Homo sapiens: one gene and its partners. The protein of the gene in region 3 interacts with the protein of the main gene of each other region in a biochemical or structural test. Each region holds a gene or a part of one and is shown on either strand. Other genes may lie near its edges. The genes, in order: MGMT, PINK1 and PRKACA.

The links.
Region 1: of the proteins of PRKACA (region 3) and MGMT, one has a biochemical effect on the other in vitro, tested with the Homo sapiens proteins (one study listed by BioGRID).
Region 2: of the proteins of PRKACA (region 3) and PINK1, one has a biochemical effect on the other in vitro, tested with the Homo sapiens proteins (one study listed by BioGRID).

The regions. Positions count from the first base shown.
Region 1 is NC_000010.11:129,470,217-129,473,943, reverse strand, and holds part of MGMT (methylated-DNA--protein-cysteine methyltransferase), read right to left. Parts: intron 1-3,727. UniProt on the Homo sapiens protein: Involved in the cellular defense against the biological effects of O6-methylguanine (O6-MeG) and O4-methylthymine (O4-MeT) in DNA. Repairs the methylated nucleobase in DNA by stoichiometrically transferring the methyl group to a cysteine residue in the enzyme.
Region 2 is NC_000001.11:20,643,458-20,646,957, reverse strand, and holds part of PINK1 (serine/threonine-protein kinase PINK1, mitochondrial precursor), read right to left. Parts: intron 2,469-3,500; coding exon 2,286-2,468; intron 1,399-2,285; coding exon 1,235-1,398; intron 1-1,234. UniProt on the Homo sapiens protein: Serine/threonine-protein kinase which acts as a sensor of mitochondrial damage and protects against mitochondrial dysfunction during cellular stress.
Region 3 is NC_000019.10:14,097,125-14,100,851, forward strand, and holds part of PRKACA (cAMP-dependent protein kinase catalytic subunit alpha), read right to left. Parts: coding exon 3,702-3,727; intron 767-3,701; coding exon 640-766; intron 551-639; coding exon 455-550; intron 360-454; coding exon 237-359; intron 1-236.

The DNA of each region.
Region 1 (3,727 bases), on a different chromosome or scaffold from region 3:
TGTGCACAGTCCCGGGACATGGCTGGCCCTCTGCATCCTCCCATCTTTCCTCTGGCCCCACTGCCCTGGTCGTTCCACTCTCTAGTGGGGTGCGGGGTAGGCACAAGGCACACGCAGGGACAGCTTTGCCATCCCCAAGTCCTCACTGCACCCAGCCTCAGCTACGGCTCAACGCCTTCAAGCAGGAATACACTTGGGCGAATTGCTTTTCCCACAATGCTAAAGACAACACTTGGTCACATTGATGTTCAGAAAACATTAGCTACATAAACAGGTCTGTGTCTGTTTACACCCTGTCTTGCCCCTTAAAGGACTTCTAACAGCTTCTCAGGCTCATCGTTGCAAAGCCAGCCTGGCACAAGTGGTTATGAGCCTGCACTTGGTTATCAAATAAATCTGGGTTGAAAACAAAACTCTACCTCTATCCCAGGAGACCTGTGCAAGTCACTCAAACTCTCCGAGGCCCGGGTTCCTCATATGCAAAATAAAGACACTCACAGCGCCTTCTCCTTCATGGGGTGGTGGTGAGCCTTTCCTAAGTTGGTCTGTACAAGGCAACAAGCGCAGCACGCCCAGAATAACCACCAGGGTGAGCTGAACCATGACAGGAGATTAAGGAGACACCCCAAATAAAAATAAGGCCCATTTCCACAAACACACGAAATGCTGCAGACTTCCCATTTTTGACCAAGTTTACCCAGCGGACCTGCGTTACCCCTCACTGCTGTGATCTAAACGGCCGTCACACATGGGAAAATACTGTCACATGCTGGTGTCACTGCTGGTTCCTGGCCACTGCCATCGTGTCAGATCCTGTGTCCGTCCTTTGGGAAGTTCTTTCAATATAACAGATGAATAATGTCAAGGCTCCCAGTGTCTCGGGCTATCAGCAACTGCCAAGTGCCCCTAGGAGCACACATGAAGCCCACCTGCCCACTCTAGGCCGATGTGGCACACCTGAACCTTTAGAATGCTGCCACGTCGAGAATGTCTACTGTGAAAAGACAGAAGCAGGTGGCAGAGCCAGTAGCCTCTTTACAGACAAAAGGACTTCAGGGACCTAGTAAATGAATAGGGAACTACCTTATGCTGCACACAGACAATGCACTGTGACCTCAGACGCACCAGAGGTGGCAAATGTGGCCAAGTGATCCCGACCTCCAGTCCTGCCTCCACCAAAACAGAGCGACTCTGCATCCGCAAACACCAACCGCCTTCATTCAGGCCTCCCCAGCGCCAGGCCTCCTTCTGGATGGGAACTGTCCCTGGCCCTGCTTTTGGAGAAATCTGGCCTTGGAAGGTTAAGTAACTCTGCTCAAGGGCACAGGATTGTAACTTGTAAAGCAGGTCCAAACGGAAGCCCATCTGTTCCCAGAAGGTGCACTTCTGACCACCGTGCACATGCCCCCAGTGAGGGCTTGGGTGTGTGCAGATCTGCAAAATACAGATTCGGATTGGACTGGGGGGAAAACGAGGGCTCGAAATGGTTCTTCGCCGTCTTCTCGTTTCATCCTTCCGTGAGACTCAGCTCCAAATTAAAATTTCTATCCATGTAGTGGATAGAAATTTTACTTTTAAAAAAATATGTATTTACTGTCTCGTGTGCCTATACTTACCCGGGTAGACCGAATAAGCATAATCGTCCCCACCCAATGGATGAGGAGGTGCCTGGAGGGCTAAGAGTTGCCCAGGGGGACCCAGCTAGGAAACAGCATCACTCCCACACACGGCCTGGCACTTCCTGTAGAAAAGCTCAATTCAGTCCCACAAAATGTATTCAGCTGTGCCTCTGAAAGTGCACCCTCACCTGAGACCAGGAAAATGCCTTGACCCAGAGGGGGATTAAAAACAAGACAACCCTCTCAAAAGGAAAGAAGGGGTGAAATATGATACGGGTTGCCCGTGCTTCGCGTGTGTTTGTAAAACTGACGCCAAAGTTTTGGTAACATCTGCATCTTGTCATAACCACAAAACTGAAAACTCAAAAGCAATAATAACATGTTGGGTTTGCAATTTGAAGAGATTCACGTCTCTCAGGAGTTACAAAACCGTACTCAGACCCATATGCACAGAAAACCTGCAGCAATGCCAACTGCCGATGGATACTTCTGGAAGGGGGACTCGGATCTTGCCTGGGCTGGAGAGTGCTACTTCCCAGAGGATCCTAAGGCCTTCCCTAGAGGTGCTCAAGCATTAGGGTCTGCCAGAATCCCCTGGCATCCCCAGGTTCTGGTCCTGTAGGTCTCCCATGGGGCCCTGCAATCGAGAGACCTCTCTAGCCAGCACCCACAGTAATTCTGATGCAGAGGGCCCAGGTCACCCTCAAACGCTCCTCCACTGTTGCCTGTGAAGATCCCACTTTACGGAGAGCAACAGGTTCAAGGGGCTGTGACTCGTCAGGCCTTGCTGGAATCGCATTCCAGTAGTGGCTCTTACCCCACACAAGCAGGAGAGACACCTGAACATGATATCCCCGGCTGCCCACCGGAGTCCTCTTGACTGGGAAGTACAATGTAGCTAAAAGTTTAAAAACAAATGATAAATAACTAGCGATTATTTATTGCATTTCAACATATAATGCCCCATCTCCTTCTCTGCCCTGAGATTCATTCACTCTCTTCACCCACCTAAATATCTCTGAACATCCCGTGCCAGAATTGCCTGATCCGTCAATAAGGCAAGCGCTTTCTAAACCTCTATGCATATGACTCAATTTGTCAGTAAAAACTGCCACCCGCGCTGTGCTTGCAGAAAAATGTCCATAAACACATTATTGCGACTGGCAGAACGATGTCTATAATAAAAACACATAGATTTAACAAGTACCTCCTTTCACAAGCCACGCCGCTGGTGGACTATCCATTCGGTGTCCCCCAGCCCAGACTTCTGGGAATGGGCGGCAGGGCTGGGTGGGAGCCTCTGCTGACTTCGCAAGCATCACAGGTAGGAAATTATTCTACCAAGAAACTTTTAGGAGTAGGAGAGTGAACACACCAGGCATTTATTGCACTCTCACCATTCCTTTCATGGTTACACACACTATGACTAATTTAACAACCCTAAGAAAATGTTTTTGTAGAATTTTTTACTGGTTTTAGAACAGCTACCTCCAGGTGGGGTGAAGGGGACACGAGGCCTCCTTGGAGAACCCTGCTCTGCTGCTGAGCCACTGATTTAACTGAAAACAACTTGTGGTGTCAAAACCAAGTTTCACCATTCAGAGCATCCGCATGGGCAGCTCCCAGGGCGGCCTATTCAGTTACTTAGCTGGAGGAGCTTCGGGAGCGCAGGCTGCTGAGGACTGGCTTTGCTGCCGGGACCGAGCACCTTGGCAGGACTCAGTGTTTGATTCCTTTCCGGGTGATCCACACCTGCCAAAGCCACTCTAATACTTCAAAGATCAACAAAGTCACAAAAATGATTTCTTCCTCTTCATAAATCACTTCAATAGCTCTATGAAGAAGTCAGTCATTCATTACATTCCATACTATATTCATTAGTTTCCCCCAAACTATGCAGCCCTCCGATATAAGCTGTACTGTTAATTTTTTTAAGTCAAAAGAAAACTAGACTATGTCCACCAACCAGCAGATATGCAGCAGTTAATGAAAAGCCACAGAACACACATCTTGCAACATTTGGTCCACAACACAAGGTCTCCAACTTCTACTTACCTATGTCCAAGACAGGCCTGCAGAGCTAACAGCGTAGGTTCACAAAATCCTCA
Region 2 (3,500 bases), on a different chromosome or scaffold from region 3:
CAGTGAGCTGAGATGGCGCCACTGCACTCCAGCCTGGGCAACAAAGCAAGATTCTGTCTCAAATAAATAAATAAATAAATAAGTAAATAAATAAAGAAATAATAAAAGCCAGTTCCTCTAGTCAATTATTTTAAATCTTCTAGTTCAAAAATTTATCAGATGTATGAATCTCCTTACAATTTTCCTAGGCAAGTGGCCATTCAGCTTCTACTTGAATGCTTCCAGTGGTAGGCAACTCATTTCCAGAGGCAACTGGGCTTACATTTGGACAGCTTTCATTGTTTGAAAAATTTAATTAATTAATTAATTTATTTTGAGATGGACTCTCACTCTGTCGCCAGGCTGGAATGCAGTGGCACAATCTCGGCTCACTACAACCTCCGCCTCCCGGGTTCAAGCAATTCTCCTGCCTCAGCTTCCCAAGTAGCTGAGATTACAGGCGCCCGCCACCATGCCCAGCTAATTTTTGTATTTTTAGTAGAGATGGGGTTTCACCATGTTGGCCAGGATGGTCTCGATCTCTTGACCTCATGATCTGCCCGCCTCAGCCTCTCAAAGTGCTGGGATTACAGGCGTGAGCCACTACCCCCGGCCGAAAGTTATTTTTTATAATGAGCTAAAGTCTACTTCTCTTTTACTTTATTATTTTTTATTATTTTTTTGAGATAGGATCTCACTCTGCTGCCCAGGCTGGAGTACAGTGGCACATTCATAGCTCATTGCAGACTCTTAACTCCTAGGCTCAAGTGATCCTCCGACCTCAGCCTCCCAAGTAGCTGGGGCTACAGGTGCATGCCACCATGCCTGGCTAACTTTTTTTCCGGCTAATTTAAAACATATTTTTTTTTTGTAGAGAAGGGATCTCACTCTGTTTCCCAGGCTGGTCTCAAACTGCTGGCCTCAAGCAATCCTCAAGCAAGCCTCCCAAAGTGTTGGGATTACAGGTGTCAGCCACTGTGCCGGGCCTCTTTATTTACCTAGGAAAACTTGCAGCACTGAGGTCCTTGTTCTTTAAGTGGGCTAGAGAAAGGAACTTGGGAAGTGCTGTCTCTCTGCAAAGAGAGAAAAAAAAACCCCGTTCTAAGGGAGAGATTGCTAACCTCTTGTGTGCGGAGCTAAATAAAGACATGACTTAGAACACAAAACCAGAGAGGACCTGAAGAGTCAGTCCTAAATGCTCCTGACCCACCCTCTAGTGCCCCTGGAGAGCTCTGATGGTGCAGCAGGTTCCTACCTGGGTCCAGCTCCACAAGGATGTTGTCGGATTTCAGGTCTCTGTGCGCGATGCCCTGTTGAACCAGATGGTCCACGCCTTCCAGCAGCTGCAGCAGCATCATGGCGGCGAGGCGGGGGCTGGGTGTGTTCACACAAAGGTACTGGCGCAGGGTACAGGGATAGCTGGCGGAGAGGGGAGAGGGCCTCTGGCTACCACACATCGACGACTCCCAATACGTTTTTTTTTTTTTTTTTGAGATGGAGTCTCACTCTGTCGCCAAGCTGGAGTGCAGTAGCACGATCTTGGCTCACTGCAACCTCCACCTTCCAGGTTCAAGCAATTCTCCTACCTCAGCCTCCCGAGTAGCTGGGATTATAGGTGCCCGCCACCACACCAGGCTAATTTTTGTATGTTTAGTAGATACAGGGTTTCATCATGTTGGCCAGGCTGGTCTCAAACTCCTGACCTCAAGTGATCTACCCACCTCCGCCTTCCAAAGTGCTGGGATTACAGGCGTCAGCCACCATTCCCGGCCTCCTAATAACCTTAATCACTGTTAGGGTTAGGCCGTTCCTCTTCCCCTTCCAGGAGCACTTTGATTCCCACTTTTCCCCAGCATCCTTTCTGTTCCCTCCCACTCACCATCCTCAAATTAGGAAGTAAGAGTTGGGGCTCCCTATATTCAAAGTAATGGTGCAGATAATTATTTCCTTAAAATAAAATACCCACTATAGCAAAGTTAGGGGATACAGAGGGTGAGGAAGGAGAACGGTTTTTATGTTAAAAACAGATAAGTCCAGCCACAGAAAAGGTTAACAGTCAAATGGACCAAAAGGACTAGGTGACAAGTATGTTCTGGATGAAGATGAGAGTTTGTTTCCATGAAAAATCGTCCTACAGGGAAAATGCTCTCCAGGGCAGATATGTTCCCTTTGCATGGCTTTCTTCTCCGGAAGGGTGATGACCCTGTTCTCCAAAACCCCCTGATCAAGGTGCACATGGAGGGCAGGAACCAGCTCCCCTTGGGAGATGTATCAGCTCCAGGCCCTGCCGCGCTGCTGTCACTTACTTCTTCATAACGAGGAACAGCGTCCGGCCATGGCCCAGGCCTTCAGGGTGGAGGCGTGAGGGCAGCACATCAGGGTAGTCGACCAGGGCCCCTGGCAGCAGCGGCACGGAAGAGGTGAAGGCGCGGAGAACCCGGATGATGTTGGGGTGAGGGGCTAGTTGCTTGGGACCTCTCTTGGATTTTCTAGTCAGCCAAGTGAGACAAACATATGAGGCCAGCATCAGATACAACACCTGGAAAGAATAACCTAAGGCCACACCAACACTGGCACTGACATTCATTATTCACTTACTATCAAATGTTTATCATAGATTTGCTATGTGCCAGGTACTGTACATGGTGTTGGAGAACACATCTGATGACTCCCCTACCCATCCTTCAATCCATTTGTCCATCCGTCTGTCCGTCCGTCCATCCGTACACCCATCCATCCTATCCATCCCATGTGGCAGAACACAGGTGGAGAAACCCTGGTATCAGACTGCCTGGGTTTGCATTCCAGGTCTGCCACTGTAAGTCCTTGGCTGAGTTGCAGTAGCCCCAACCTTATCCACAGTTTTGCTTTCTGCAATTTCAGTTATCTACAGTTTGAGAATAGGTGAGTACAAGAAGATATTTAGAGAGAGGAGAGAGAGAGAGACCACATTCACATAACTTTTATTACAGTATATTGTCATAATTATTCTATTTTATTAGTTATCTTTAATTTTTTACTGTGCCTAATTTATAAATTAAACTTTACCATAGGTATGTGTGTATAGGAAAAAACACAGTATATATAGGGTTTGTTACTATCTGTGGCTTCAGGCATCCACTGGGGGATCTATCTTGGAATGTGTCCCCTCTGTCCTTATCTTCTCTGGGCTCAATCTCCAGGGTGCAAGGGGAATGCAGTGTTAACACGCTGCATAAGGTTGTCAAAGTGTGGAAGGCACCTAGAATCGTGTCTAGCACAGAGGAAGCTCTCAGCTGCTATTAGCTGTACTATTATTCATTCAACCAATACGCACTGTTTGCATGCTGAGTACCAGACATCATGCTGGAATGCTGTGGAACTATGGCACAGAACAAGACAGAGTCCCTGTCCTCATGGATTTGCAGTCTATCAGGGGAGAGAGATATTCATCAATGAGTAATCATGTGAGCTCCCTAAGAGCAAGGACTGTGCCTGAATTTTCTCCATTATTCCAAGTCTAGTACAGTAGTTGGCATAGA
Region 3 (3,727 bases):
GAGGCTCGGGATTTTGGAAGCCCATGGGATTCTGGAACCGCGGGGTTGGGGCTGGACAGCAAGGGGGCTTGAGGTGTTGGCCTCAGTGTGGCCGGCGCGTCCAGCTTCACCACCTGGCCTGACTTAAGGAACTTCTAGATTATTCTGACAACAAGCAGGGCTCCCCAGGGAATAGGATGGGTGAGCAGGGAACGGTCTGTTTCTTCCAGGGCTGTGTCCCCACATCCGGACCTCACCTTCCCAGAGACGATCTTCTCATAGATCTGGATGGGCTGGTCTGCGAAGAAGGGCGGGTAGCCAGCGGCCATTTCATAGATAAGAACCCCCAGGGCCCACCAGTCCACGGCCTTGTTGTAGCCCTGGAGCAAGATGGGGGGGCACAGGGTGAGGAGGAGGCGAGAGCAGGAGAGCAGAGCCGGCCTCAGGGGAAGGGGAGGGCTGGGGAGGCTCCTACTTTGCTCAGGATAATCTCAGGGGCCAGGTACTCAGGGGTGCCGCACAAGGTCCAAGTGCGGCCCTTCACGCGCTTGGCGAAACCGAAGTCTGTCACCTGTGGGCACAAGAACAGGCAGTTGGCAGGGAGGAAGGGTCCAGGCCACGGCTTCCCCAGGGCTGCCCCTCGCCCGGCCTGGTGGGCACCTGAATGTAGCCCTGCTGGTCAATGAGCAGATTCTCCGGCTTCAGGTCCCTGTAGATGAGATCCAGCGAGTGCAGATACTCAAAGGTCAGGACGATCTGGGCCGCGTAGAAACGGGCATGGGGCTCACTGATGGGGACAAATGGGGAGGTGAACGTCAGTGGTCATGCCCCAAAATGGTCCAGCAGGTGGCCCTGCAGAGCCTACCCCAGAGGAAGACACCTCCAGTCCAGCCGTCAGAAACGCAAGGCACCTGATTCTTAGATAGCCCGACATGGGAAACAGCCTGTGGGTCCATCCACAGGAAAATGGAATCACAGACTGAGCTATAGTCATACAATGGAATTCCACTCACCACCACCACCGCCAACAGGACAGCCCATGCATCCACTCAACAATGTGGCTGCATTTCAAACTGATTATGTTAAGCAAAAGAAGACACAAAAGAACATGAATGATTCCATTTATATCATGTCCACGCCCAGACAAAACAAAGGCACGGTGTTTGAAGTCAGAAAGGACAACTGCCTTTGGTGGGGAGGTGACGTGTCAAGAGAGGGATTCGGCCCGGTGCGGTGGCTCACCCCTGTAATCCCAGCATTTTGGGGGGTCGAGGTGGGAAGATCGCTTGAGCCCAGGAGTTCGAGACCAGCCTGGGCAATATAGGCAAGACCTCACCTCTGTATGTATGTAGATATGTGTGTGTGTGTGTATATATATATATATATTTTTTTTTGATTAATTTATTTTTTTTAAGACAGTCTCGCTCTCTTGCCCAGGCTGGAGTGCAATGGCATAATCTCGGCTCACTGCAACCTTTGCCTCCTGGAAACAAGTGATTCTCTTGCCTCAGCCTCCTGAGTAGCTGGGATTACAGGTGTGCACCACCACGCCCGGCTAATTTTTATATTTTTAGTAGAGACGGGGTTTCACCATGTTGGTCAGGCTGGTCTCGAACTCCTGACCTTGTGATTCGCCCGCCTCGGCCTCCCAAAGTGCTGGGATTACAGGCGTGAGCCATGGCACCCGGCCTCCACCTCTGTATGTTATTGGAAAAAAAAAAAAAAAAAAAAGGGATTCAAGGGAATTTTCTTAGGTGATAGAAAAGTTCCATATACTGTTTTGGGTGGAGGTTAGGTAGCTATATACAACTGTCAAAACTTGTAGCATGGAACATTGAAGAACTGTGCATTTTGTTGTATGTAAAGTGAATCTATAGTTATCTATCTAAAATACAACTACAAGGCCAGCGCGGTGGCCCATGCCTGTAATCCCAGCATCTTGAGAGGCCAAGGCGGGGGGGGCGGATCACCTGAGGTCAGGAGTTCGAGACCAGCCTGGCCAACATGGTGAAACCCCATCTCTACTAAAAATACAAAAATTAGCCAGGCAAGGGGGCATGCACCTGTAGTCCCAGCTACTTGGGAGGCTGAGACAAGAGAATCACTTGAACCCGGGAGGCAGAGTTTGCATGGAGCCGAGATCGTGCCACTGCACTCCAGCCTGGGTGACAAGAGTGAAACTCTGTCTCAAAAAATAAAATCAAATAAAACTACGTATGTAAACTTATAAGTTAATAAGACAAATTTATAAGTTAAAAATTTTTTTTTTCTTTCAGCAGGGTCTGACTGGGTTACAACCCAGTCTGGACTGCAGCAGCGTGATCACGGCTTATGCAGTCTTTTTTTTTTTTTGCATATGTTGAACCAGCCTTGCATCCTAGGGATGAAGGTGGGCTCATGCAGTCTTGACCTCCCAGACTCAGGTGATCTTCCCACCTCAGCCTCCCCAGGAGCTGGGACTACAGGAATGTGCCACCACACCTGACTTTTTTTTTTTTTTTTTGTATTTTTTTGTAGAGATGGGGTCTTGCTATGTAAGGCTGGTCTCAAATTCCTGGGCTCTAGCAATCTGCCCACCTTGGCCTCCCCAAGTGGGATTATAGGGCATGAGCCACAGTACCCAGCCTGTATCTTAAACTTACAAATTTCTGTATATAGATTTATTTTATGTATAAAAATATATATTAAAATCTACACATATAAAACTGTCCACCTATATAAAATAAAATAATAGTATAATTTTTATTTTATTTTTTTGAGACGGAGTCTCGCTCTGTCACCCAGGCTGGAAGTGCAGTGGCGCGATCTCGGCTCACTGCAAACTCCGCCTCCCGGGTTCACGCCATTCTGCCTCAGCCTCCCGAGTAGCTGGGACTATAGGCGCCCGCCATCACACCCGGCTAATTTTTTTGTATTTTTTTAGTAGAGACGGGGTTTCACCATGTTAACCAGGATGGTCTTGATCTCCTGACCTCGTGATCCGCCCGCCTCGGCCTCCCAAAGTTCTAGGATTACAGGCACGAGCCACTGCGCCCAGCCAATTTTTTTTTTTTAAAAGAGACAAAACCTCACTATGCAGCCCAGGCTGGTCTCAAATTCTTGAGCTCAAATGATCTTCTCACCTCAGCCTCAGGACTAGTGGGACTACAGATGCATGCCACCTTTTGGGGCTCAAAAAATGCACAAAATCAACAACTTCAATTTTTTTTTTTGAGACGGCATGTCACTCTCTCACCCAGGCTGGAGTACAGTGGTGTGATCTTGGCTCACTGCAACCTCTGTCTCCTGGGTTCAAGTGATTCTCCTGCCTCAGCCTCCCAAGTAGCTGGGATTACAGGTGCCCACCACCATGCCCAGCTCAGTTTTGTATTTTTAGTGGAGACAGGGTTTTGCCATGTTGGCCAGGCTGGTCTCAAACTCCTGACCTCAGGTGATCTGCCCACCTTGGCCTCCCAAAGTGCTGGGATTACTGGTGAGAACCACCGTGCCTGGCAGCAACTTCAGTTTGGACACCTAAGTTGCCCTGTTTGCTCTGTTTTGTTTTGTGGTGGTTGAAATATCACATATTCCTCAGCAGAGGGGAAACAGAAACCCACAGGGTCTGGGAGACCACCTGCATGTTGAAGTATGCTGGACTCCTCTGCATTCCCAGGGGGCTTGGTCGTGCACTGCCACCTGTGGACACCCTGACAGCCTGATGTGATGGGGGGTGGCCCGCTTACCTGAACCTTCCGATCCGCCGTAGGTG